4 linked regions of the Homo sapiens genome follow. The protein of the gene in region 3 interacts with the protein of the main gene of each other region in a pairwise test. Each region holds a gene or a part of one and is shown on either strand. Other genes may lie near its edges. The genes, in order: NR1H2, NR1H3, FOXO3 and ESR2.

The links.
Region 1: the proteins of FOXO3 (region 3) and NR1H2 interact in a two-hybrid assay, tested with the Homo sapiens proteins (one study listed by BioGRID).
Region 2: the proteins of FOXO3 (region 3) and NR1H3 interact in a two-hybrid assay, tested with the Homo sapiens proteins (one study listed by BioGRID).
Region 4: the proteins of FOXO3 (region 3) and ESR2 interact in binary tests that used the Homo sapiens proteins (3 or more experiments, as listed by UniProt).

The regions. Positions count from the first base shown.
Region 1 is NC_000019.10:50,371,845-50,379,463, reverse strand, and holds the start of NR1H2 (oxysterols receptor LXR-beta), read right to left. Parts: upstream 3,008-7,619; 5' UTR 2,888-3,007; intron 2,746-2,887; 5' UTR 2,638-2,745; intron 1,878-2,637; 5' UTR 1,859-1,877; coding exon 1,816-1,858; intron 1,732-1,815; coding exon 1,594-1,731; intron 1,316-1,593; coding exon 1,025-1,315; intron 943-1,024; coding exon 668-942; intron 463-667; coding exon 283-462; intron 1-282. UniProt on the Homo sapiens protein: Nuclear receptor that exhibits a ligand-dependent transcriptional activation activity. Binds preferentially to double-stranded oligonucleotide direct repeats having the consensus half-site sequence 5'-AGGTCA-3' and 4-nt spacing (DR-4).
Region 2 is NC_000011.10:47,260,983-47,268,005, reverse strand, and holds part of NR1H3 (oxysterols receptor LXR-alpha), read right to left. Parts: intron 6,766-7,023; coding exon 6,557-6,765; intron 6,460-6,556; coding exon 6,280-6,459; intron 6,088-6,279; coding exon 5,988-6,087; intron 94-5,987; coding exon 1-93. UniProt on the Homo sapiens protein: Nuclear receptor that exhibits a ligand-dependent transcriptional activation activity.
Region 3 is NC_000006.12:108,563,894-108,570,916, forward strand, and holds part of FOXO3 (forkhead box protein O3), read left to right. Parts: intron 1-3,278; exon of another isoform or gene 3,279-3,656; intron 3,657-4,339; exon of another isoform or gene 4,340-5,849; intron 5,850-7,023. UniProt on the Homo sapiens protein: Transcriptional activator that recognizes and binds to the DNA sequence 5'-[AG]TAAA[TC]A-3' and regulates different processes, such as apoptosis and autophagy.
Region 4 is NC_000014.9:64,291,352-64,298,547, forward strand, and holds the start of ESR2 (estrogen receptor beta), read right to left. Parts: upstream 3,021-7,196; 5' UTR 2,682-3,020; intron 1-2,681.

The sequences.
Region 1 (7,619 bases), on a different chromosome or scaffold from region 3:
TACAGCACGTGCTCAATACTTATATGTTATCCCTACTTTGATTCAAATGCTAACTCCTCTGAAAAGCCTTTTTGGCAACTTTTCTCTGCAATAGCGCCTCTAGCCTGATCCTCAATTTTCTCAGCCTCAGACCCTTTTTCCTTTCTCTCCTTGGCTCATAGAAGACTCTATTCGCCGTGGAATGTCATCCTACAACGGCAAGCACTGGTCTTCCTTAACTCTGCTCCCAGCATCTGTCCTGGAGCTATCTCTGGGGTTCCTTGTGGGCAGATGGACCATTACCTCGATAGTGGATGCCTTCAGGAGGGCGATCTGGTCCTCCCGGCCCAGCTGCAGGAAACCAGGCACTTGCTTAGCGAAGTCCACGATCTCCTGGACTGAGATGATGGCCAGCTCCGTGAAGTGGGCAAAGCGTTGCTGGCGGGCATCTCGGGACTGGGGGTCTGCGCCCAGGGGCCAGGGCTGGGACACAGGAGACCAGGGTCACTCCCAGGTCTTTGTGAGCCTAAGTCTGGGTGGCCACCTTGAGGCCAAGCCTGCACCCTGGGGGATCCTCTTCCCAAAGCCCCTGCCCTCTGGAGCCTCATTCTCCCACACCCTGGGTGATGGCCCAGCTGGCTCTACCCCATTGGGACCGTCACACTCAAGGTTGTGGAGGGGGCAGTACCGTGACTTTGGGCTGGTCGGAGAAGGAGCGTTTGTTGCACTGCAGTTGGGCCGCCACCAACTGCTGGATCATTAGTTCTTGAGCCGCTGTTAGCTGGACACCCTCGCCTTCCCCGGAGCCCTGGCTGCCTGCCTCAGATCCACCAGGGGAAGCCCCAGGCCCAGAGGCTGAGCTGCTGCTGCCCTGCGGCCCCACAGGTGACTGCGACTGTGACTGTGACTCCTGCTGCTGTTTCCGAATCTTCTTCTTCCGGATCTGTTCTTCAGAAAGGACGCCTGTAGGGGGATGCAGGCCTCAGCAGAACCCCAGGGCTAGGCGGGGGGCCAGGCCGGCACCGCCCCCTCCCGCTGCACTCACACTGCTCCCTCATCCCTGCCTCCTTGCACTTGCGCAGCCGGCACTGCTGGCACTTGCGCCGCATGAAAGCGTCCATCTGGCAGGTTCCGCCACCCCGGCAGGCATAGCGCCTGGCCCCACCACGGACCACACTGCGCCGGAAGAAGCCCTTGCAGCCTTCGCAGCTGAGCACGTTGTAGTGGAAGCCGGAGGCCTTGTCCCCACAGACACGGCAAAGCTCGTGGCCCAGCATCTTCGGGGCTGGGCCCTTCTTTCGCTTGCGCTCTGGTTCCTCTTCGGGATCTGGGATGACTGGGGTGGGTAGGTAGAGGCCATGAGAAAGCCACAAGGAGAAACAGGAACCAGAGAGATGGGCCCACAGGAGATCCCCAGGCAAAGAGCCAGAGGATGGAGGGAGAGAGGAGTTGCTGCTCACATTCAGGGAAATTGCAATTTAGAAAGATGTATATGTTAAGGAGAAAGCAAGAACAAAAAGCAAAGATCAGGGCCTCCCATTCCCATTTCTATTTCTTTCTCCCTTCCTAAACCCCTCCCCAAGCCCCCACATCAACTCCAGGGCCCTGTCTCACCCCAGTCTGTGCTGCAGGCTGAGCTGGCCTCATCAGTGCCTGGGACATCAGGGTCCGGACCCCCGGGCCACGGCTCCGGACCCTCCTCCTTTACAGTGGGTGAAGAAGAAGGGGCGCCAGGCTGAGGGGGGCCATTTCCTGGAAGAGGGTGGAATCCGGGAGAGGTACAGTGAGCTTCTGCTCGTGTGTGATAAGGGCTGGGTGGGGAAGAGAGTCACTCACCAGGCAGGGGGGTATCCAGGGAACTCGTGGTAGGAGAGGACATGGTGGGGTCACGGAGCAGCCTGTAGAATACAGGGGATTGAGAGCCTTGTGGGGCTAAGAAGGGTTAGGTTAGGTCAGTTACAGGTCCTGACAGGGCTTTCCCTTTTTTTTCCATCTCTCCAAAGACCCTACTCTCAGCCACAACCCTGGTTCCTGCCAGCCTACAAACCCTCCCCATCCTTCTAACAAGACCTGCCCCCTTCTGTTCCACGCCAGCCTTCAGCTTGGTCTTAAGCCCCGCCCCTGCTGTAGGCCCCGCCCCCTCAGGTCCAATCCACCTGCTTTTTCTAGGTAGGGCCCATTCTCCTTTAATCATGCTCTGCCTTCACGGCCTCCATGCCATGTAGTTTCCCCCCACCTCCTCTTCTTAAGACTCTACCTCACTTCTGCCCCAAGCATCCCTATTTCTCATTCTGACCCCACCTCCTCCTACTATGCTCCGCCCTCAACCTTCCAGGTTCAGCCCCTAAAGCCCCCATCATGGGCCTCCCAACACCTTGCCCCGCCCCATATGCATCCCTCCCTCCAAGCCTCACCCCCACAACCTCGCTCCAGGTCCCCATCCCCTCCCATCATGCCCCGCCCCCGCCCCGCCTCCTCCCTTCCTACTGCACCCCCACAACCTCGCTCCAGGCCCCGCCACATCTCCTCCCATCATGCCCCGCCCCCAGCCCCGCCTCCTCCCTTCATGCCCCGCCCCCGCACCGCGCTGCAGGTCCCGCCCCATCACCTCCCATCATGCCCCGCCCCGCCTCCTCCATTCATGCTCCGCCCTCGCACCTCTCTCCAGGTCCCGCCCCTCTCCAAGCAACAGCGGGGGGCGGGGCTCATGGCTGCGCGCGGGGGTCTCGTGGACGGCCTCTCGCGGAGTGAACTACTCCTGTTGCCCTGGAAACAGCCGCGGGAGGCGCGAATTACCGAGGGGAGGAAATGGAAGGAGAGAAGGGGGCAGAGCGGAGTACGCGGGGAGCGCCGAGAAGCCCCGGGTTCGGGGCTCCTCCTGCGTCTCCCCACTCTCGGGTGCACCTACCTGGGTTCCCTTGCTCTGCTTTTCTTCGTCCTCCTCTTTAGCCCCTGACACACCGCCGCTACTCAAATACCCTCAAAAGTAACTTCGCCACTTCTTCCGGCAACCCCGCCCTTGCGTCACGTCCGGAAGAGGGGCGGAGCGTGAAACTTGACGAACTTCCGGTCCGCTTAGGACCAGCCGAAGCTGCTGCCCCGCACGGAAGTTGGAAACTCACCGGAAGTTTACCGGGTAGATCTACTGGGACTTGGCAGAAGAGTTCCGAACCCATTTCCTCGCTTCTTGGGAGCCAAACCTCCAGCCCCGCGCTTTGTGGCTTTAGCTCATTCATGCGCTTCTCTGAGCCTGCGGCCAAACCCTAGCTATAGCTGCTTGTCGCACATGACTGATTTAAGGCACGTTTGCACTTTTTTGGTCGTTACAAGTTTTCTGATTTTGGAGTCGTGCTGCTTGTTAGTTTTATTTATTTTTATTTATTTATTTGGAGAGGTCTCACTCTGTCACCCCAGACTGGAGTGCAGTGGTGTGATCTCAGCTCACTCCAGCCTCTGCGTCCTGGGTTCAAGAGATTCTCTTGCCTCACCCTCCCAAGTAACTGGGATTACAGGCATGTGCCACCACGCCCGGCTCATTTTTTTGTATTTTTAGTAGAGACAGGGTTTCGCCATGTTGGCGAGGCTGGTCTCGAACTCCTGACTTCAAATGATCCGCCTGCCTCGGCCTCCCAAAGTGCTGGGATTACAGGCGTGAGCTGCGGCACCGGGCTTATTTTTACTTTTTTTTTTTTGAGATGGAGTCTCACTCTGTTGCCCAGGCTGGAGTGCAGTGCCGCGATCTCAGCTAACTGCAACTTCCGCCTCCTGGGTTCAAGCGATTCTCCTGCCTCAGCCTCCCTTGTAGCTGGGATTACAGGTGCCCACCACCACGGCCGGCTAATTTTTCTATTTTTAGTAGAGATGGGGTTTCACCATGTTTGCCAGGCTGGTATCGAACTCCTGACCTCAGGCAATCCACCTACCTCGGCCTTCCAGAGTGTTGGGATTACAGGCGTGAGCCGCTGTGCCTGGCCAGATTTGAGATGTCAGAATTTTCTCATTGTTAAAATTTTGCAAAAATGGTTTCAATAACTTGGTGATTGGAAGAATTAAAAAAGCTCAGTCTCGGACCGGGCGCGGTGGCTCACGCCTGTAATCCCAGCACTTTGGGAGGCCGAGGTGGGCAGATCACCTGAGGTCGGGAGTTTGAGATCAGCCTGACCAACATGGAGAAACTCCGTCTCTACTAAAAATACAAAATTAGCCAGGCATGGTGGCGGGCGCCTGTAATCCCAGCTACTCGGGAGAGGCTGAGGCAGGAGAATCGCTTGAACCCAGGAGGCGGAGGTTGCGGTGAGCCGAGGTTGCGGTGAGCCGAGATTGCGCCATTGCACTCCAGTCTGGGTAACAAGAGCGAAACTCCGTCTCAAAAATAAAATGCAATAAAAATAAAGGAATAAAAGAATGGCTACTCCAGGTAGAGCAGCGGCTTGGGCTGTTCACTGTGATTATACTTATAGTTATTTCTTGATTATATACTAAACAACGGGTGGATTATTCATGAGTTTTCCAGGAAAAGGGTAGGCAATTCTCAGAATTGAGGGTTCCTCCCCCGTTTAGACCATATAGGGGAACTTCCTGACGTTGCCATGGCATTTGTAAGCTGTCATCGTGCTGGTGGGTGTGACTTTTAGCATGCTAATGCGTTATAATTAGTGTATAATGAGCCATGAGGACGGCTAGAGGTCACTCTCATCGCCATCTTGGTTTTGCTGGGATCTGGCTGACTTCTTTACTGCATATGCTGTTTTATCAGCAAGCTCTTTGTGACCCGTATCTTGTGCCAACCTCCTATCCTATCTCATCCTGTGACTAAGAATGCCTTAACCTCCTGGGAACGCAGCCCAGTAGGTCTCAGCCTTATTTTACCAAGCTCCTATTCAAGACAGAATCGCTGTGGTTGGAATGCCTCTGACATATGTGTATGCCTTTATAAAAAAGAAATGGGACTATGTGATCCATGCTCTTCTGTAACTTATTATGTCTACTCAGGCCCATCGTTTGAGATTGTGGAATTTTCCACCTAGGGATGTTAGAAGCGAAACAAGTGATTAACATGAGCGTTGGAAATGGCAGAACCTGGTGTCTCTGTCACTTCCTTCCTGTGTAACACTGAGCCCAGTTCCTTAACCTCCCCGTGCCTCAGTTTCCTTGCCTGTAAATTGCAAACAGGAGTGAGAAAGCCGGGCATGGTGGCTCATGCCTGTAATCCCAGCACTTTGGGAGGCCAAGGCAGGTGGATCACCTGAGATCAGGAGTTCGAGACTAGCCTGACCAACTTGCTGAAACCTGGTCTCTACTAAAAATATAAAATTAGCCGGGCATGGTGGCGGGCACCTGTAATCCCAGCTACTCAGGAGGCTGAGGCAGGAGAATTGAACCCGGGAGACAGAGGTTGTGGTGAGCCAAGATCTTGCCATTGCATTCCACCCTGGGCAGCAGGAGCAAAACTGCATCTCAAAAATAAAAAAATAAAGGCAGGGCACGGTGGCTCACGCCTGTAATCCCAGCACTTTGGGAGGCCAAGGCAGGTGGATCACAAGGTCAGGAGTTCAAGACCAGCCTGACCAACACCATGAAACCCCATCTCTACTAAAAAAAATACAAAAAAAATAGCCAGGCGTGGTGGTACGTGCCTGTAATCCCAGCTACTTGGGAGGCTGAGACAGAAGAATCACTTGAACCCAGGAGGCGGAGGTTGCAGTGAGCCGAGAACGCGCCACTGCACTCCAGCCTGGCAACAGAGTAAGACTCCGTCTCAAAATAAATAAATAAATAAACAAATAAATAAAAATAAAAAAATTAAAAAGAGTGAGACAGGAGGCTAGGCACAGTGGTTCATGCCAGTAATCCCAGCATTTTGGAAGGCTGAGGCAGGCAGATCACGATGTCAGGAGATGGAGACCATCCTGGCCAACATGGTGAAACCCCATCTCAACTAAAAATACAAAAATTAGCTGGGCGTGGTGGCACGTGCCTGTAATCCCAACTACTTGGGAGGCTGAGGCAGGAGAATCTCTTGAACCAAGGAGTCAGAGGTTGCAGTGAGCCGAGATCGCGCCACTGCACTCCAGCCTACCGACAGACTGAAACTCTATCTCAAAAAAAAAAAAAAAAAAAAAAAGCGAGACAGGAATAACACAGGGTAGTCACAGGAGAATAGAAAATTCCAGGCAGCAGTTTCACATGACTAGCAAAAGGAAACTGTTGAAATAGTTGCAGCAGGTGGGGGCTGATAAGACTCTTGAAAACCCTAGGTGTGGACCAACCTGGCTAAGACACATTGGACCCAACAAGGCCCTACATATGACCTAGGTCTCACCTAGGACCTCGTTATATGCTCATTAACATAAACACACACCCACCAGCACCAGGACGGTTACAGGAACACCCATATTTGGTGTAAAAGTGGGTGGCACCACAGTTCTCAAAAATCTCCTTTTTCTAGGAATCTTCATGAATATTCCACTCCTTGATTAAAGAAATCCATAGTACATACCTGTAGTCCCAGCTACTCAGGAGACTGAGGCAGGAGAATCGCTGGAACCCGTGAGGCGGAGGTTGCAGTGAGCCAAGATCGTGCCACTGCACTCCAGCCTGGGGACAGAGCAAGACTGTCTCAAAACAAAAAGAGAGAAACCCATTAAGGTAGCAGCCCCAAACCCCCCCTGCAGGAGACTCTCTCTGGAGTCCACCTGTACTCCTCTTTGTTGAGTGTGTACTTTTCACTTTGCAATACATCTTTGTACTTTCAGTATTTTCCCACTTGTCCTCAAGTTCCTTCCCGAGATGGTGTCAAGAGCCTGGACATTGGCTGGGGTGGAGGTCCCACACCAGCATATGGGGACTTCCCCTAGCCCACCGGGATCAAGAGTATGACCTTGTTGCCTTACTCTTATGACTAAATGAGGTAAAAGCATAAACAGGGTGGGTTTCAAATGAGGTGCCTGATATGGTGGAACTGTATTTATATTTATTTATTTATTTATTTATTTTTTTAAGATAAGATCTCACTCTGTCGCCCAGGCTGGAGTGCAGTGGTGCCATCTTGGCTTATTGCAGCCCTGACCTCCTGGGCTCAGGTGATCCTCCCACCTCAGCCTCCAGAGTATGTGGGACCGCAGGCATGAGCCACCACACCCAGCTAAGTTTTTACATTTTTGTTAGAGATGGGGTTTCGCCACGTTGCCTAGGCTGTTCTTGAACTCATGGACTCAGGCGATCTGCCCACCTTGGCCTCCCAAGGTGCCGGGATTACAGGCATGAGCCTCTCATCCAGCCTGTATTGATTCTTGTGGCTGTTAAAGTAGTTCTAAGTTTCCACTGTTAGAAAAGTGCAAGAGTCCTGAAATAGGCTGAAGAGGAATTACAACACTTTTGGGACGAGTCACATTGCACTCAGTCTCGGTTGACCTACTGGTAAATAGGATAAATCGTTCTTCCTTTTTTCTTTGAGTTTTGCTCTTGTCACCCAGGCTAGAGTGCAGTGGCCCAATCTTGGTTCACTGCAACTTCTGCCTCCCGGGTTCAAGTTATTCTCCTGCCTCAGCCTCCTGAGTAGCTGGGATCACGGGTGCGCACCACCATGCCCGGCTAATTTTTGTGTTTTTAGTAGAGACGGGGTTTCACCATGTTGGGCA
Region 2 (7,023 bases), on a different chromosome or scaffold from region 3:
CAATGAGCAAGGCAAACTCGGCATCATTGAGTTGCAGCTCATTCATGGCCCTGGAGAACTCGAAGATGGGGTTGATGAATTCCACTTGCAGCCCTGGGGAGGAAGAAGGGAGGCTGACGCAAGCAGCAGGAGCAGCAGGAACTTTCTTCTCTCCTCACCTTAGGGAACTATTAGGAACTCACTAAGAAGTTTACTGAGGCCGGGCACAGTGGCTCACGCCTGTAATCCCAGCACTTTCGGAGGCTGAGGCGGGCGGATCACCTGAAGTCAGGAGTTCGAGAAGAGCCTGGCCAACATGGCGAAACCCCGTCTGTACTAAAAACACAAAAACTAGCCGGGCGTGGTGGCAGGTGCCTGTAATCCCAGCTACTTGGGAGGCTGAGGCAGGAGAATTGCTTGAACACGGGAGGCAGAGGTTGCAGTGACCCAAGATTGCACTACTGCACTCCAGCCTGGGCGATAGAGCGAGATTCCGTCAAAAAAAAAAAAAAGGTCTACAAGGCTTTGCTGTGTAACCTTGAGCAAATGTCTTAACCCCTCTATAAGCCTCATCTGTGAAATGGGAATCATATCTGAACCCTTCTCAGAAAATTGTTGGTATAGTTCAATGACAAAGTATGCAGGGCACTTAGCGCTGTGTCTGGCACACAAGAGGTGCTGAATTAAATAATAATTCTGGTATTCTTGTTTTTTTTCTTTGAGACAGGGTCTTGTTCTATCACCCAGACTGGAGTGCAGTGGCACAATCACAGCTCACTGCAGCCTCGACCTCCCGGGTGCAAGCCATCCTCCTACTTCAGCCTCCCTAGTAGCTGGGACTACAGGTGCATACCATCACAAGTAGCTAATTCTTATATTTTCAGTTGTGACAGGATTTCACCATGTTGCCCAGGCTGGTCTCGAACTCCTGGACTCAAGCAATCCACCCGCCTCGCCCTCCCAAAGTGCTGGGATTACAGGCACCAGACACCATCACCTGCCAATTCTGTCATTAAAATTCTTGAGGGCTCCACATTTCTAGAAATAGAGGCAACTCTTATTTTTGTTTATCAAGAATCGTTTTTCAGCAAGGCACGGCGGTTCATGCCTGTAATCCCAGTATTTTGGGAGGCCGAGGCAGGGGGATCACCTGAGTTCAGGAGTTTGAGACCAGCCTGGCCGACATGGCAAAACCCTGTCTCACTGAAAATACAAAAATTAGCTGGGCGTGGTGGTGCACTCCTGTAATTCCAGCTACTTAGGAGGCTGAGGCAGGAGAATTGCTTGAATCTGGGAGGCGGAGGTTGCAGTAAGCCGAGATCACGCCACTGCACTCCAGCCTGGATGACAGAGCGAAACTCCATCTCAAAAAAAAAAAAAGAAAAAGAAAAAAGGCTGGATGCGGTGGCTTATCCCTATAATCCCAGCACTTTAGGAGGCCGAGGCAGACGGATTGCCTGAGCTCAAGAGTTTGAGACCAGCCTGGGCAACACAGTGAAACCCGGTCTCTACTAAAAATACAAAAATTAACTGGGCATGGTGGCGCACCTGTAGTCCCAGCTACTCGGGAGGCTGAGCAGGCGAATTGCTTGAACCTGGGAGGTGGAGGTTGCAGTGAGCCGAGATTGTTCTACTTGCACTCCAGCCTGGGCGACAGAGCAAGATTCTGGCTCAAAAAAAAAAAAAATCCTTTTTCAGCAGGGCACGGTGGTTCACACCTGTAGTCCCAGCTACTCAAGGAGGATCACTTGAGCCCAGAAGGTCGAGGCTGCATTGAGCCATGATTGATCACACCACTGCATTCAGCCTGGGCGACAGAGCGAGACCCTGTTTCAAAGAAAAAAAAAAGACTTGTTTTTCACTGGCATTGGCCTTACTTATTTGAACACTAGAGATACATTTCATGTATCACATCCTCGAGGGAATATTGCAGTATGGGTGAGGATGTGGATTTTGGTGCCAGACTGCCTCGGGTTGAGTCCTGCCTCTACCACTTACAAGGCAGTGTGACCTTGTGTAAGTTATTTAACCTCTCTGGGCTTTGGTTTTCCCATCTGTAAAATGGGAATAATAATAGTACCTATCTCATAAATATGTGGCATATATGGTAACTACCACATAAGTGTTTGTAAAATAAATAAAAAAATTTTTTTTGAGACAAAGAGTCTTGCTCTGTTGCCAGACTAGAGTGCAGTTGCATGATCTCGGCTCACTGCAAGCTCTGCCTCCCAGGTTCAAGCAATTCTCCTGCCTCAGCCTCTTGAGTAGCTGGGACTACTGGTGCATGTCACCACGCCCAGCTAATTTTTGTATTTTTAGTAGAGACAGGATTTCACCATGTTGGCCAGGATGGTCTCGATCTCTTGACCTCGTGATCTGCCTGCCTCGGCCTCCCAAAGTACTGGGATTACAGGCATGAGCCACCGCGCCTGGTCAATAAATAATACATTTTTCTTGGAAACAGTCTTCCTGCTGAGAAGACTAAAATGCAACAAAACATGAGCTAAAGTAATGATACCTAGAGAATGTCTCTCATACACATTGTCAAAGTCTCTGCACCCTACAGAGTTCCCCAGGCTTTGTCAGATTTCTTTTAGCAACCATCTGCTACACTTTTCCATTCAAGGCTTCTTGGTGAGTCACTTCCTGTACTTTCACCCTGATGTTTATCAAGTGTTGTGTGTTGGTCCATTTAATGGGCAGGCCCCATTTTCTTTTTCTTTTTTCTTTTTTTGAGATGGAGTCTTGCTCTGTCACCCAGGCTGGAGTGCAGTGGCGCGATCTCAGCTCACTGCAACCTCAGCCTTCTGGTTCAAGCAATTCTCCTGCCTCAGCCTCCTGAGTAGCTGGGACCACAGGTGTGCACCACCACGCCCAGCTAATTTTTGTATTTTCAGTAGAGATGGGGTTTTGCCATATGGGCCAGGCTGGTCTCGAACTCCTGACCTCAGGTGATCCGCCTGCCTCGGCCTCCCAAAGTGCTGGGATTTCAGGTGTAAGCCACCACGCCCGGCGGCAAGCCCCATTTTCTAAAGCATTTCTTGGTGAGGTTTTGAGCCCCAAAGTGTGGCAAACAGCCCCCTTTATAGAGAAATTAAGAGGAGGTTCTATAGTTAGCTAATGCACCTCTGAGGGTCTGCTGATGCCCACGGAATGAACACCTCAAATGTGCTCAGTCCATGTCACCAGTTATCTACTGCATGCAGTAAATAGTAGCGGATAGGGAGGGGAGGAGACTTGACAAGCAGAGCTCCTGTTCCTTCTCCCCAAGACCTCACTCATGAAATAAGAAATGCAAGCATGATTACTTCAAAACTGCTTGTATAAATAAATCTATGAATAGGTGCAGATTCAGATAGCATGAGTCTACAAGTGCCAAAGGAATACAAAGATCTTAGAACTGGGCAGGGTTCCACAAGGAGGATATTCTGAAGGAGGGGAGAGCCACGGTTAAGAAGGTCTGAGATAATAACCATCGAGGAAAAAGTGGTTTGGAAGAGGGGAGCAGGGCTGGGCTTTAAAGCTGGATAAAGTCATTAAATCACCCCATTAGGTGTCAATACATCCAGGCAGCACACCGGTTACTATAGAAGGCAAAAGGTGCCAACATAGCCCTGTTATGCCCTACAGCGAAGAGTGGCCTTCCTAGAAAGCTCACTGGGTGGACTGCGTTGGGAGAGCAAGAGGCACGTGAGCTGGCCTGAGTTATCAGAAACCAAGGAAGGCTTGATGACTGGCCTGGCCACAGATCTACCAGCCCTGAGAGTGGAGTCAGGGCATCAGCCATATTTTACAGCCCCACTCATCCAGTCGTTAAGCTACTTGGTTTCCTGCTGAAGCTCAATTCCAGTCCCTCCAAAACTCCCTCAGCCTCCCGTCCTTTCCCAGGCCAGTTCTCATGATACAAACATTATCAATAGTTGAATATGAAGAAACCCCTTCTGCGTAGCTCCCAAGCGAGCATCAGATAGAGAGCCGCAGAATGAACTAATTTTTGGAGAAAATACTTCAGATATAGGATGGAGATGGAAGCATTCGCTCTTATTGTACATCCTCTCTGGGCATGTTTGCCATGCCATGGTTCTGGTTCGTCAGAAAGTGCAATTGAAAAAGAGTAGGGGAGGGGCCTGGACAAGTGGCTCATGGCTGTAATCCCAGGACTTTGGGAGGCCAAGGCGGGCGGATTGCCTGAGCTCAGGAGTTCAAGACCAGCCTGGGCAAAACAGTGAAACCCCATCTCTACTAAAAATACAAAAGTTAGCTGAGCGTAGTGGCGCGCGCCTGTAGTCCCAGCTACTCAGGAGGCTGAGGCAGGGGAATCGTTTGAATCCGGGAGGCAGAAGTTGCAGTGAGCCAAGATCGCGTCACTGCACTCCAGCCTGGCAACAGAGTGAGAATCCATCTCAAAAAAAAAAAAAAAGAAAAGAAAAAAAAAGAAAAAGAGTAGGGGAGGCTGTGTGTGGTGGCTCATGCCTGTAATCCCAGCACATTGGGAGGCCGAGGTGGGTGGATCACTTGAGCTCAGGAGTTCGAGACCATTTTGAGACCAGCCTGGGCAACATGGCGAAACCCACTCTCTACAAAAAAATATAAAAATTAGCCTGGCATGGTGGTGCATGCCTGTAGTCCCACCTACTTGGGGGCTGAGGCAGGAGGATTACTGGAGCCCAGGTGGTTGAGGCTGCAGTGAGCCACGTTCATGCCACTGCACTTCAGCCTGCGTGACAGAGCAAGAACTTATCTCAAAAAAAAAAAAAAAGTAGGGGAAATCAGCCCCCATGATCCCCAAAGAGCACATGTGAGGAAGATTTGTTCACTTTTTGACTACTAAAAAGTTGAGTGCACTGAGTTTCAAACTTTTTTTTCAAGCTGTAAAATCTGCAAGCAAAATACTATGTAGCAGTGCAATATATAATGCAGATTTAAATGGAGCTTCTTGTTTGGCTAAAGTAAAGATGAAGGACATTCCTGTGCCTCCCTGTTTCTCCTCCAAGGTGCCATTCCATATATCTCTCAGGTTCCTTGGAATACAGTTTGAAAACCACTGACCTAAAGCAACAGAGGACAGGGGTCTATCTGGAGCAGCTGAGAGAAGCCTATCAGCATTCCAATTTTCTATCTTCAAAAAACAAGGGAGCCTTCCCTTACCAGCCACCCAAACATTGGGCCTGTGGCTCTGTAGTCACTATGGGCCTCTGACAAAAAGCACCAGTCCTGGCCAGGTTCAGTGGCTCATGCCTGTAATCCCAGCATTTTGGGAGGCTGAGGCACATGGATCACTTAAGGTCAGGAGTTCAAGACCAGCCTGGTCAACATGGTAAAACCCTGTCTCTACTAAAAGTACAAAAATTAGCTGGGCATGGTGGTGCACCTAATCCCAGCTACTTGAGAAGCTGAAGCAGGAGAATTGCTTGAACCCGGGAGGCGGAGGTTGTAGTGAGCCAAGATCACGCCACTGCACTCCTGCTTGGGTGACAGAGCAAACTCTGTCTAAAAAAAAAAATGAAACAAAAAAAAAGTACTTGGCCGGGCATGGTGGGTGGCTCACGCCTGTAATCCCAGCACTTTGGGAGTCAGAGGCAGGAGGATCACTTGAGGCCAGGAGTTTGGGACCAACCTGGGCAACATAGTAAGACTCTATCTCAATTTTTGTTGTTGTTGTTGTTGTTGCCCAGGCTGGAGTGCAGTGGTGCGATCTTGGCTCACTACAACCTCTGCCTCCCAGATTCAAGTGATTCTCCTGCCTCGATCTCCCAAGTAGCTGGGGCTACAGGCGCGTGCCACCATGCCTGACTAATTTTTTGTATTTTCAGTAGAGACAGGGTTTCACCGTGTTAGCCAGAATGGTCTTGATCTACTGACCTGGTGATCTGCCCACCTCGGCCTCCCAAAGTGCTGGGATTACAGGCATGAGCCACCGCGCCTGGCCCTCAATTTTTAAAAATAAAAAATAAAAAAAGAAGCATCTGTCCACCCAACCCCAATCCCTGTGTGATCTCAGTTCTCACCTGCTTTGGCAAAGTCTTCCCGGTTATAACTGAAATCCTTGAGGAAGGTGATACTCTCACTCCCAGGGTTGTACCTCCGAGATGTCTCCAGAAGCATCACCTGCACACAAGCAGCAAACCTCAAACGGGGACTAGGAGGGCTGGTCTTGGAGCATGGCCTCTTCCAGGGAGGCCGATTCTCCTCATCCCTGCTTCCCAGCAGATTTGGCTCTCCCAGCTCGATGTCTGGAGGCCCCTCCCACAGATAATCCCACTCTGCTTCTCCCTTCATCCCTTGCCCTTCTCCAGCCACCTCGATCGCAGAGGTCTTCAGCAGGGCAATCTGGTCCTCCCGGCTGAGCTGCAGGAAGCCGGGTAGCTGTTTAGCAAAGTCAACTATCTCCTGCACAGAGACGATGGCCAGCTCAGTGAAGTGGGCAAAGCGCTGCTGACGGGCCTCCCGGCTATGGGGATCTGGTGCCATGGGCCAAGGCTACCCAGGAGGGAAAAGGCAAAGCGCTTTGAGTCGGACATCAAGAAGCCCACTGGTGATCTGGGCGCAGCCGCCTCTCCCCAGGTGTGTCAAGTACCGTGACTCGAAGCCGGTCAGAAAAGGAGCGCCGGTTACACTGTTGCTGGGCAGCGACGAGCTTCTCGATCATGCCCAGTTGTTCCGGGCTGAGCTGGGGCAGGATTTGGGGGGGTGAGGAAGCCCTGGGGGGCAAGGATGTGGCATGAGCCTGTTCCTCCTCTTGCCGCTTCAGTTTCTTCAGGCGGATCTGTTCTTCTGACAGGACACCTAAGGACAGGGCCAAATATGAGGAAGGGAGCAGATGGGGAAAGGATGGGGCAAGGGGGTGGGGGAAAGACAGGAGGGAAGGATGGGGCAAAGGGGGTGGTTTGGGGCTCCAGAAAAGCAGACAGCACTGGGTAAAGGCAAGAAGATTTTTTTTTTTTGAAACAGAGTCTCACACTTGCTCAGGCTGGAGTGCAGTGGCATGATCTTGGCACACTGCAACCTCCACCTCCCGTGTTCAAGTGATTCTCCTGCCTCAGT
Region 3 (7,023 bases):
AATACAGATTTTGGGACTAGTCATAAACTTTATGGTTTTATGTCATCGTTTTTTTGTCTTATGGTTTTTTTTTTTTACCCTTCTCTGCTATCTCATTTCTCTTCAACTAAAATCTTAGAAAATACTGTAAATTGAAATTCTCAAGGCTTAATATGCTTAATACAGGGCACACATTTTATGATTCTTTTACCTTAAAATTTTTTACCAATTCCATTTCTGAGTGTCACATGACAACTAATCCTTGACGACTAAAGGGATATAATTTTGTTAGAGTTTTTATAAGATGATCTTCATCAAAAGATGCAGCCATGCAGGAACTTTCAAATCTTTGATGATGGAGAAGGCCCTTTGAAACTGGAGCTGGTTTTATATTTTGATTATGACTAATAGGCAACCTTTTTTTGTGTGTGCTTGTGGTTTAGTGGAAGAAGAGGGAAAAGGGAGAGATCAGGAGCTAATTGTGACCCATTTCCAAGTGTCCAAGTTTAGGAGTTGATTCTTGTCATGATTAGTCATTTTGGAAGCACGCATGTGCATTTAAACCACACTACTTTCATTCTGAGTAATGTAAGAGGATTTTTAACTTCCAAAAATGTCTAGAATTCAGGTTAACGTCTCCTAGTCATGTGTGCATAAAGGGCACGGTATGCAGGGCCTTACTTCTTTTCAGGCTATTTGGGCCATTGCATTATGAGACCTTGTAACCAAAATTATCACCCTAACATCATAAAATGAAAGAATTAGAAAAGAGGACTTAGAGATCAGAATCTAAATCAGTGGTTCTCAGCCCTGGTTGCATGTTTGAATTACCTGGGAACTTCTGAAAAATACAAATACCCAGAGAATTTGATATAATTTGGCTTGTGTGTGGCTTAGCATTGATGGTTTTGTGTTTTGTTTTTTTTTTTCAAGTTTCTTAGGTGATTCTAATGTATAGTTAGGATGAAGTTTTCTGATCTAGTTCAACCCTCTTATTTTACTGGTGAAAAACCTGATTTTTGGAAAAGCTAATGACTTTCTTAAGATCACACAGCTAGTTAGTAGAGAGGTAATTAGTAGCCACAGTTCTAGAGGTTTTTGTTTTCCATTTTCTTCTTTAAATTGATCTTTTTTAAAAGGTCATTTGCTAGGTAATGGATAGTCTCACATAAGTAGCGCTTGCTTTCCTGAAAGGCTTATTTGCCTCTCAATCTAAAAACATCTTGCTTATTATTTCAGCATCAAAAGGATGGGCAAATGTAGATGGAGGCTGAGTGAGTGTATCATGTTTGCATAGCTGTCCAGTGCCTGTCAGTAGGGGTACTTAGGAACTATGAAGTGATAAAAGAGGTAAGAAGGATAGCATTTTAACAAAAAGAGGAAGCCCTTGGTTACTTACATTTGTCAGATACTGTGTCAGGGAGAAGGATGATGACTATCTCACAGGTTCCCTTACCTCGGGCATTAAAGTAGAAATGAACAATCAGATGTGGTTAAGAGGGGAAAAGGTTACATTTCCTTTAATTCAGATTAAGCTTGCACTGCACCCATGATTGAACAAGTGAGTTCTCTCAGTTCCTCTTGTCTTGGGGAGACCTCTAAGGACGCCAGGGCTTACCTGGTAAGGCCTATCTATCACTTATTTCGTTATACACAGCACACATCTGCTTTTCCCATGGGTCAGGGTGTAATCAAATTAGGCAGACTTGAGTTTCTGTAGTGGTTCCCATAATTTCACAAGTGTGGGGGATACTGTGTTAAGATTTCTGCTGCTGCTGCTGCTGCAGAAGATAATTCTTCAAGAGTCCGAGTCTTCTTTCATGTAAGAATGTGTATTGTTATGGCTTCTTGCCAAGATAAAAAGATGAGGGCTGTCCTGTCACATAATGCTTATTTGTGTCCTCACTGTTTCTGTTCTTTAGATTAATACATCCAGTTCCTTTTCAACACACTGTATTAGGAAAATGTTATTTTAACTGCAACTCTGTTTTAAATTTTTTTTTAATTTGAAAATGACTAAGTCATAATCATTCCACATTGGCTCATAATTTTGACCTCAGTCACCTTTTGGAGTAACTCACCAAAAGGCCAGTTATGGTCGTGTGTGAAGAATCTGTCTGCTTGGCCCGTGTTGCCAAAATGTCGTTTTGTAATTTCCTTTGGCAATAGTGTCTTCGTCAGTGATTCTCAACTAATATACTTCCTCTTTCTACAGCCCCAGTACACTAGAGGGACTGTTTTTCCTCTTTTTCAAAGCTGTGTCATTGACCTCTGAAGTGAAGAAATTGGCCCTTTTAGACTTTGATCTGTGAGTCCCATGTAACAGAGACTCTTTAAAAAAGAAGCTAAGTGTGTGTTTTGATATGTTTATCTCCTTCTTAGAAAATGAAATGAAACTACAGCAGACTTATTTTTAGGAGATTTTAGGAGTGTTCTATTTTAAGAAAATGACACCATACAAGAACATCTTTTAGTTAAACTTCTTAGTACTCTGCTTGTGATTCTTACTTAAAACCTGCAAGATACTTTTATTTGGAAAATTAATGAAGAGGCCTTGTCTCACTAATAAGTCATTTAATTTGGTCTGGCAAAAGTTTACCATCCATTCAAAGATCTTCATGAAAATGCAAAGATAAGGCTGTTTAGGCTTGAGCCCAGGAGTTCAAGACCAGCTTGGGCACATAGCAAAACCCCATCTTATTTTTTTTTTAAAGACTGTTTAGGCCTGTGCATTCTGGCAGGTTGCCCCACTTACCCAGAGCAGGTGCATCAGATTCCAGATTCCCAGGGCTGGAGAGAATATGGAATTTATTTTGTTTGTATACCCACTTATTTTGCCTATAGGGACAGACTTGACCCTATTCTCAACTCCTCATTTCTCTCCTTTTCCTGCATCACAAATTGAGGGGTCCTGAAGAGCCACTTTACCTTTTTGGTGCTATAAAAGGAGCTGGGGATCATAAATGCAAAGACGAGTTGATATCAGTGGATGTTACAGCTGGTATACAGTAAGTGAATGAAAGATTGGAAAGAGAAAACCCTTTTTACCCATTTGCATCACATCCCATTTCATGTATTCAACAAATGTTTATCAAAGGCATGCTGCTTGCAGAGCATTTGCCAGGACTTAGGGATATAGTGGTAGCAGAAGGCAGATAAAGTTCCAGTTCACTCACAGGAGTTCATATTCTGATGGAGGAGACAGAAAATAAGCTATAGCATATCTGTGCTTTGTGAATTTGTCATTGCTGCCTATTCCCGTTGCCTTTTTTTTACATCTGTATTTCTGCTTTCTCTAGTACTTCAACTCTGCTAAGAAGTTGCTGGGAAGTGGCAAATTTGATGTGGGGCATGGCTTGGAGCTAGCCTTTAACTCTCTGCAGATCATTTTGAGCTTGCTTTGGAGATGCAAAACCACCGTACCATGGCTCCTGTGGATTGGGTCTGTTTGGGAGAAGCTTTGGTTTTCCAAGCTCCACCTGGATTAGATAGAGCACATCTTTGGCCCTGGACTGATCTGGGATCCCCAGTTCTGTCTCCCAGGGCCTGATGTAGATCTGGCCTTCCTCTGGAGTGGATGTGGAGCCTTGATGCCACTGACTCATCTGTATTACTTGTTGCCTAAAACTCAGAACTAAAAGAGATCTTAAAGATCATCTAACTACCTTATTTTGCAGGTGAGAAACATGCTAGGACTATGTGAGTGACTGGGTTCAGGGTTCCACAGCTAGTAGGGGTGGAGTAACGGGTGTGTCCAGTCAGTGCAGTGGTTCATGCCTATAATTTTAACACTTTGGGAGGCCAAGGCAGGAGGATTGCCTGAGGCCAGGAGTTTGAGACCAGCCTGGGCAACAAAGTGAGACCTCGTCTCTACCAGAAAAAAAGAAAACTAGGCCAGGTGCGGTGGCTCATGCCTGTAATCCCAGCACTTTGGGAGGCCCAGGTGGGTGGATCACCTGAGGTCAGGAGTTCGAGACCAGCCTTACCAACATGGTGAAACCCTGTCTCTACTAAAAGTACAAAAAGCTAGCCGGGCATCGTGGCGCATGCCTGTAATCCCAGCTACTAGGGAGGCTGAGGCAGGAGAATTGCTTGAACCTGGGAGGCGGAGGTTGCAGTGAGCCAAGATTGTGCCGTTGCACTCCAGCCTGGGTAACAAGAGCGAAACTCCATCTCAAAAAAAAAAAAAATTAGCTCTGTTGTGGTGGTGCATGCCTGTAGTCCCAGCTGCTTGAGAGGCTGAGGCAGGAGGATCCCTTAATCCCAGGAGTTTGAGACTGCAGTGAGCACGACTGCACCACTGCACTCCAGCCTGGATGACAGAGTGAGACCCTCTCTCTCTCTTTTTTTTTTTTTTTTAAAGCGTGTGTTCATACCACTGTACTGTAGTGTCTACTGCCTACCATTGTGGTTTCACAGCTGTTCATCTCAGTGCTGTTTGCCTCAAGTTCTTCAAGCTCTTCACTTGCTGTCTTCTGCTTCTCCTCCCCTCTTCTAGGCTAGCTCGCACTGGAGTCGCTGTGTTTCTCCTTTTGTGTTCTCCATCAGCACTCTCTACTTACCTTGCTAAATGCCTTTTCTTTCAACGCCACCTTACCCTGCCCACCCCATGGCTGCTACCTGTTTATTTTGTCATTTTGCTAAGACTGTTGAATATTTTTAAGCACAGTATAAGAGGCTTTAAATTAGGGAATGTGTCTGCCAGACAAATAAGTGTTTCTAATATTTGGAGCTGCTTTTTGGATTTTATAATCAACCCATATGGATAGCCTTAGTTCTGGGGCTGTGACTCTGAAAGGGGCTGATGTGACTCAGGAGTGAGCTGGTGTCATGAGTGGAGTCTTTTGGATACTTGCAGCTCTGAAGGTGGCATCAGCTTTAGACCTCCTAGCATCGATGTTGATGTGATGTGGTGTAAATGTGAGATGATGCTGTGCTATCTGGGGTTTCTTGCAGTGCCTTGTTACCCAATGCATAAGTCTCTGAAAACTCCATAAGTGTCCATCACTACTTACCACAGAAACTGAAGGAAGCCTGATCTTGGGATGACCTTGTTGCATTAAGAGAAAAAGGAAATGAAGTTTGCCATCTGTATGTAAACCCGCTATTTGTATCATCAACATGCAGTGTCGAGAAAGTCACCATAGAATTGTTTTGCCTAAAGTTTATTTTACTCACTTTTAGGAACAAAGCTGTTATGTAAAGCCTTAGTTGTTTGTAATGTTCTGCATTTTGGGGCAGAAGTCCCAAATGTACTTCAAGTTTTCTGTCCATGGATTGGGAAATAGAAGTCATGTATGAAAGGAGAGGAGATAGCAGACAGTCTTTGAGATGAACTATTTCAAGGACCAGTCTGCAGTTCTTCCAAGTTAGAGTTCTGAATATGTGGTTAGGCTAGTGATGATGATAGAACACCCCAGTTCTGACTGCATCATTGCCCAGACAGACCCAGTATCTTTCACCATTTTATTCCTGACCAAACAACGTTCATTTCCCAGTATCTTAGTCTCTCCTAAAGGAAAAAGAACTACGGTAGCTGGCATCCATAGAGTACTGTGATGTACCACTCTTGGTAAAACGGAAATGTCTGATTGGAGTGTGTTTCAAGCCAGGCTTTTCTATAATTCGCTTGTTCCACTTTTCACTCCTGAGTTTTTGAGGTTTTAATCTTGAGACTTTTTCTCTGCAGTGCCTCAGTTACTACTATGGAATAACATAATAAGCGAAGAGGATGACTTCTCTGCTGGGCTGTGGTTCTTCTAGTAATTCCGCTACTCCTGGGTCATTGCCTGGGGTGAGGAGGCCAGGTTATCTTCTGGAGGCTCACCACACCTTGGTGTCCAGATGTGCCCTAGGACTGCAGTGGAGAGGTGAGCACAGAGTAAGGAAAGCATGTGGCACATGTGTAGGGGGCAAGGCTGGAGCAGGAAGTAAACTCTCCCCCAAACAAACAAATAAACAAACAGCATACATTACCTTCCTTCTGGAGTGAACCTATAGTAAACCCAACAGAGATGTGTTTGGCAGTTTTCAGTACGTGTTTAGGAATTTGTTTGAAAACCATTAGGGGGTGGGGTGGGGTGGAAGAATCCACATCATGTTTTCCCTTGCGTGGTTTTTTTTTTTTTTTTTTTTTTTTTTTTTTGAGACAGAATCTCGCTCTGTCGCCTAGGCTGGAGTGCAGTGGCGTGATCTTGGCTCACTGCAAGCTCCGCCTCCTGGGTTCATGCCATTCTCCTGCCTCAGCCTCCCAAGTAGCTGGGACTGCAGGCGTTCGCCACCACTCCCAGCTAATTTTTTGTATTTTTATTAGAGACGGGGCTTCACTGTGTTAGCCAGGATGGTCTTGATCTGCTGACCTCATGATCTGCCTGCCTCGGCCTCCCAAAGTGCTGGGATTACAGGCATGAGCCATTGCACCCGGCTCCCTTGTGTATTTTTATTTTAAATTTTTTATTTGAGACAAGGCCTTGCTCTGTCACCTAGGCTGGAGTGCGGTGGCACAATCATAGCTCTCCACAGCTTCAAACTCCTGGCTCTCTCTGTAGAGAGCTATGATCCTCCTGCCTCAGCTGCCCTAGTAGCTGGGACTACTAATGAGCGCCACGACACCCAGCTAATTTTATGTTTTTTTTGTAGAGATATGAGGTCTCACTTTGTTGCCAGGTTGGTCTCAAACTCCTGGGTTCAAGCGATCCTCTTACTTGGGCCTCCTAAAGTGCTGGGATTATAAACATGAGCCCCTGCAACCAGCCTTCCTTGTATTTCAGATGTCTAGTGAAGTTAGTTAAGTTAGCCCTTGAAGGTATTGAGAATTTACTTTAAATTCAGAGCCAGCAGAGGGAGTACACAAGTCTTTAAGCTGATGTCAAGTATTTTTTTCTCCACACAGCTAAAATAATACCTTGATTATTTTTTAAAGAACTCTGATATATAGTGTTTCCATGTAAGTTTATTGTCATCATTAGAAAAGGAAAATTTAGGAGAGGGGGTGTGGAGATTAAAAACTTAAAGCAAGTGTTTTAAAGGAAACCCTGGTCTTCT
Region 4 (7,196 bases), on a different chromosome or scaffold from region 3:
CTTCATTTTCAAGACCTGTCATAATTCCAGCTAGGAAGGCCAACTATCCAGTTTGCTAGCTCCTCATAAACTTGCCACTCTGCATATCCTAGTTACTACCACTGTAACTGGGTATGCAAGGTAAGTTACATATTTAAAATACAGGCTGTTTTTCATAGAACAAAGGAAAAAGGAAAAAGACATCAATTTTATATATATATATGTTAGCAGTACCTACCAATAACAGGCTCCTAACTGTATACTGAATTGAATACTGTGTTAAACAGTGAAAAATATTAGTTTACAAAAGGTTATACATCTCCACCCTGCAGGAAAATCTAGACTTCAAGACATGAGCACAGAAATTTAAAAATCCTGACATCTACAAATAAGTTGGACACAGACCTAAGCCCCTATGAAGATAAATATTTTACCTTCAGCAATTGTAATCACTCTGCATTTTAAATGTCTTCAATTTGTCATTTTCAATCCCTGTTTTGCTTCTCACTATTTGATAATATGCAATTTCAGGTAGCTTTCTTAATCTCAGGTATAATGAAAAGTAGTTTTTTTTTTAATAAAGAAGTTTTAAAATTCAAAGATTATAAAAGAATGATGCATTCTATTAATATGATATAAATAACTTTTAATGGCCTTGTATTTCAATTCAGGATAACTAATGATATATGCCATAACCAAAGGCTTAAACCACAATAGAATCTAAATCTGCTAAGAACTAAATCTATTAGCCCTATATGAATTTAACACTTAGTCCAAGTCTCAAGTTTCCCATTTGCAAATAGCATTGTCTTTGCCTTGATTTATCCCAAGGTACTAGAATTAAAAATAGCACAAACTGACTCATCCTATAAAAAGGGAAAAACAGGTTTTTCTTTCAAAAGAAGTAAAGGAAAATATGTCTAAGTAAAAACGTACTAAAGAGCAAAACCACATAATCATTATGTAGTTTTGATCAGTGATTTTCAGGGGCAGTGGGGTAGGTAGAGGTACAAAGGGGACTTTTGGGGTAATGGAACTGTTCTGTGTCATGTGTGCGGTGCTGGTTACATGACTGTGCATCTGTCAGAATTCATAGAGGTACATTTACAGAGGCTAAATTTTACTGTATGTAAATTATACTGCTGTAGCCTAATTTTTTTAAAGTGCTATTGCATATAAAACAATGTGCTAGACACTGAATTATGAAATCTAACGTTCAAGCATACAATTCTCAAGGTTTCTAGATGTATTATCAAAAACTTATCATTAAACACTTTGAGTTCAGCCTTCAGTATTTTATATTTTATCCATATTTATATTCTATAAAACGACTCAAAGCATCACCTAAAATTATCACATGAATTTTGAATTATTATGTGTTCAACATACACTTATAGAAAATTTCCTTCTTATTCTTAAAAGTGAACATATCAATATCTATTAAATGTTAATTATATGGTTATGAGTTGAATTTACTACTAAATTCTACCTTTTCTGAATTATAAATACATTAAGAAATGTAAACTGTGATTAGATTTATTCACATCCCTCAGAACACTACGAAATGTGTCCTAAACATGTTAATTGATTTCAGAAACTTCTATGTCTTGAGCAAGACTTAAGTGTTAACAAGCATCTGATGGCTTTTAAAATAAGAATGTTTCAGAAATTCATCTAAAAAAATGCTTGAACGTAAAATGCAATCCTACGGTGTATACTCTAATGCCTGTTGATGAACAGATCCTTATAGTTTCCTTCTTCTAGAACTCATATCAAAATACATTTTCTTCAGAAAAAATAGGAGTCAAAGATGTTAATCATGTTCTTTTCATAGTCACGTTACATTTGTTTTACAACACTCTCAGAAAAGCCTTTCCTTTCACATGTTCACTTTTTAAATTACAAACATGTTTCCCCTCACTAGACACCGAGTTACGAAACTTAGAGCAAAAGTAAAACTTTCTAATGGAATGCCCATGTAAATACTAGAAATATAACAAAATAAGGCAAAGTCTGTCCTCCAAAATGTTGCCTACCACACCAAAACACAATCCTGCTTTTTAAACAGCGAGTAAAATTAAATCAACCTTATCTTCCTAAATAGAAGTCCACTCAAAGTTTTTTCACAAAAATGACATTCACTTGACTTAATATTGTCCTTCCAATAAGAATAACACGCAGGGTGTTAGAGGGCAGTTGTTGGACTCCTCTTCAGCAAATAAAGGAGACCAGTTAGAGCTTAGCTTGGTCTGCCCAGGAAAGGAGGAACGCAGCTTGCTGACATGGCTAAGGAATGCCAATTAATACATTTTAAAACCCCTATCATCTTGCCTGAGACGTGTACATCTTCCCAGGCCCTCAAAGTTCAATCAGAAAGTGTATTCAACTCCATTGTCATTTCACCCATAGTGGGGAAGTCCATCGAGGAAAACCATAGGGAAATAAAATGTTTTTCAGTTATTCATATTAGCACAATCAACCCAGAGCTCACGGCACAAACTAAATAAGTTAACTTGCCAGTGTCTTGAATGAAGACATTTAATCAAAGCATGCATTTTCCAACTTTCCAGTAGCTTTCAGGACAGTTGGTTTTGGTGATCGTTTTTTGGTCTTTTATTGTTCTCAACACGACTGGTTTCTCACCGCAGGATTTCAAACAAAATGAGACAATTAAACCACACCTCGAGCGAAGGGGCGCTTACCTTGCAGATAAACACACCGGCCTTGCCTTCTCTAAAATGCGGACACGTGCTTTTCCCGCATTAGGGGGGGTCTCCCGGCGCGCGCCCCGCCGCCACCTGTTGAGGAAAGCGAGCGCACCTCCTGCAGCTCAGGCTCCGGGCGCCAGCCCTGCCCCGCAGCCCCAGAGCCCGTCGCAGCTCGGGTGGTCCCTCCCCGGCCCAGCGCTCGCCGCCTGCTCTTCGCCCTGCAAGTTTCAAGAGGCAGTTATTTCTCGCAGCCTCCGCGCTTGCAACTGCCTCCTGGCGGGGGAGTGGGTGTCCAAAAAGCCAGCAGCTGGAGAAACTGAAAAGATCACAAGCGACTTAACGATAAGCCCCTTCTTCCTTTTAAAGACCGAGAGGAGGGTAGAGGGGAGTAGTGCCTGAGCCCACGTGACCGAGCCAGGGAGCCCGACGGTCTCAGGAACGCCCGACGCCGCGCGTGACCTCTAAGTGGGAGCACCCTCGAACCGACTCCTGGTCCACCCACAAGGATAGTGGCGCACAGATGGCGCTCCCCGCAGCCCCAGTCTCAGATTTAAGAGGTCTGGAGTAGGGCCTGAGAATATGCATTTCCAACCAGGTCCTGGGGGATGCCGACACTGATACAGCCAGTCTGGGGACCACACTTCGAGGATCACGTCCTCAGCCCCTGACTCACATAAGTGTCATTCAGAACAGATGTCTGATTCTAAGGAGCCAGTGGTGAAACCAGAGAGGCTTTGGGTTTGTCAAATCCCCAGCAGCAAACGTAACCTCGGGCCCTGGAGTGGCAAAGCCGTGGACTAGAGGTGGAGGGAGTGGGTTCTCAGCTCTCAAGAGGTCACTGGGAAGGCCTTTCGCGTTAGATCAAAGATCCCAGGTACTTCCTCGAACTCACTTGAAGTGGCACCGGGGAGACCTGTGCCTCCGGCCACGGCGCCCTTCTCCGCTGGAGGCACCTGCCCACCCCTCTTCTCGGGCGAAGGCCCCTCGCGCCCCCTGGTGGCAGCCCCAGTTCCCCCAGCTTAATGGGGTGTTCCCCTCACCCACCCCAGCAGGAGCCCCAGGGTGCGAGACTAGGACCACAGTCTTAACTGGCTTTAAGGCAGCTGTTGCTGATGAAAATGAAAAGGAAAGTAGCATGTGACCCACAGGCCATTGTGAGAACCCCCCAGTGTCACATCTGTGCCTAATTAATCATCAAACCATCTACTCAGGTGGCATAAGGGACATGGTTTTTGAGGGTTGTGATCCAGATCTCTAATAGAGGAAGACGAGGGGGGGCATTTGGAGGGAAAGTTTTACAGTACCAGCCTCAGCTGTTTGGTGTTTAGCCAAAATAGAGAGACGCAAGTGTGCTCTGGGTTGATAAAGATGAGGTCCACAGGTAATGAAGACAGGCTCCAAAGATGGAGAAGCATCTGCTTCATCAGCTAAACAATAGCTGTGAAAAGTCTCCACTGCCCCACCCTAAGTCCAATTTTCATTAAAGCTGAGAGTCCTGGTTTCTCTCAGGTTGAAAGGCAGAGTCTCCCTGTCCTTGAGGCAGAGAAGTTAGTTTGGACGGGAAGAGTGTGTCGCTGGCAAATAACTGCAGCAGACAACATGCCAATCTCAGCCTCCCTGTCTCCTGTCCTGGGGTCTCTCAAAGTACCCAGTCCCCATATGCTCTTCCTCCTTGCCACCTTATGGAGAAAATGTTAAATGATGGTTTAAAAAAATCAGCTTCATGGCCAGGCATGGTGGCTCACACCTATAATCTCAGCACTTTGGGAGGCCGAGGCAGGTGGATCACGAGGTCAGGAGTTTGAGACCAGCCTGACCAACATGGTGAAACCTCGTCTCTACTAAAAATACAAAAATTGGCTGGACGTGGTGGCACATGCCAGTAATCCCAGCTACTCAGGAGGCTGAGGCAGGAGAATCGCTTGAACATGGGAGGCGGAGGTTGCAGTGAGCCAAGATCGCGCCACTGCATTCCAGCCTGGGCGACAGAGCGAGACTCTGTCTCAAAAAAAAAAAAAAAAAAAAAAATCAGCTTCATTTGGTGGTATATACTTGTTAACAAGATATCTCTGGAAATGGAAACCGTCATGAAGGAATTTCAACCATAAGCCAACAGGCAGAAAAAGATAGGTGAGGGTGAAGAAAATGCATCTATCAATATTAACATCATACCTGACGCTGTGCTAAGCACCTGCACAGCATCTCATTTAATCCTCACACCAGCTCAGTGAGATATTGACTCCACTTTTCCAGTGAGGAAATTGAGGCTCACAGAGCTTCTGTCAGCTACCTGAAGCCACCTAGTGAGAAAGGAACCCAGTAACAACAGTGGCTTCATAGACAGCTACCGCTTATTGGACATTTATGCCCCGCTTTCTCTCAATAATTCTTATTTTATACGCAAGCCTATAAGGCAAATTCTATTACCCCCATTTTATACTTGAGAAAATGAATGTTCAGGAAGGTTAAACAACCTCCCTATGGTCACATGACCTATCAGTGGCTAAGAAGGACTTGAATCCAGGAGAGAGGCCAAGGACCCATTTACCTCCATACCATGCCTCCAATCAATCAGAATGAAAATGGCTTGACTCTCTGCTCTATGCAGAACACTGCAGACAAACTTCTGCCACCTGTGTGCCAAGCTTCTGCTCTGTGTTCACTGTGATGCTTCCTTCAGAAGGCATTCTACACACAGGAACAGCATGTTCTCTTTTCAGAGCAGCTCAAACACCCACAGAAGCTGTTTATTATACAAGGAAACCTCACTGCAGGAAATAATAAGCAGAAAATGAATGGGAGTGAGTAAGTTTCCTTCTGACTCACCCTGTCCATCAAGAAAGACAATGGTACCCAGAGATGGAAACTTTGCCTGGTTTAATGCAGAGTGGAGAGGATGATTATTCCAATTCTACCTGAATTGTGACCACAATGATGAAGGGATTATTCTTGAGGCAGTTCATACCAATGGCTAGACCAAAAAGCCCCCTGAAGCCTGGTATTGAGAACGATGCCTGCTATATAAGTGAGCAGGGTCCCAGCCTCATTTCCACCTCACCCCTGACCTGCCTAAGGAAGCACCCACATATGACATTGAAAGGACTGCCTGTCTCCAAAATATCCTACAATGGGGATTGAAATTGTCACCATTAAGTCATCTTTTGGGGATAAAGCATTGAATTGTTAAAATTAAGTCATGTTATATATGATGGGTAATATTAACTTACTAGCATTTATGATTAACAAGATGAGCTTGCAGCATGAGCTAGATGTCACCTGGGAAAGCAAAGGAAGTCAATGTAGTACAGGTATGGTTTGCTGTGAAGAGGAAGGAAAGCCTCTCCATAAAAGGTGCACCTTCCTCATCTTCTCACCCCACCCCTTCTCTGTCTAGCAAAGTCTTACACATCCCAAAGCCAAGAGCCTAAATAAGGTGAAGAGCACATTAGCCCAGTGGAACGTGCACATTGGCTCCCCCACAGCCCTCATCTTACCTGTCAACACAACCTGCGCTGCGATTGGACAGCGCATGTCTTACATCTCTAGCATTCTCCATGGTCCATAACACCCACCTAGCACAATCCACGCGTTCAACAAATGTTTGCTGAAGCCTTTGACTTGGAAAGATCAGAGGGAGAATTTTCCGTAGGAAAGAAACTACCAAGAGGCAAAACAAAACCCTGTAAAAGGCAAGAAAGCAAAAGCTAATAGGAAAAGTGGAGGGAAAGGAGGAATGCTACAGATGTCTAGAAGGGTGTCATGCCAAAGGGTGCCTTTGGATTGTTGCTTTATTCTCTGAGCTTGAAGCCAAGTAGGAGGATTTGGGTTCTGGGATAGTTATCTGCTCCAGAGTGTTATAGGAACAAGCTTATTTATATTATGTGGGTATAAATTGGTCTGTTTTAAGAGAATCTGAGAGATAAAACCCTACACTTATGGAATTAATAAAGGGGAAAGATTAATTGAACGTGCAATAACACCTTTTTTTGGTGGTGATGAATGAAAAAGATAGGATTACTAATTAATATGTCAGAGATCATCTCAACTGAACATAAAGTTCACAAAATGTGATTTGACATTTGAAACTTGAATTTGGATAGAGCTCTTTAGGATCACATCTTTTGTAGAAATAAAAACAAACCTAATATTTATTGAGCATTTTTCTAGCCTGGACACCACAGTAGGCAGGCTTGCATAGGTTGATTCACTTTTATTTCATTTAATCCTTGAAAATTCCCTGGGACTGTCTATTTTACAGATGGGAAAACTGAGGCTCAGAGAGCTAACATTTATTTTATAAAGTCACCCATGTGCATTTGGTAGGGTGAAAGTTTCCACCCAACTTTACCTACCTACCTGCACATCCCATGTTTTCTCCACTGTCATGAGATGCTGTTCTTATTTGTTGCATAAATGGAGGCATGTCTGTCCTGTAGAGCCCAGATACTGTTGAATGAAATGTTGTCAATTTCTTGTCTAGGAATGACCACCTATGAGCATATTTATGTA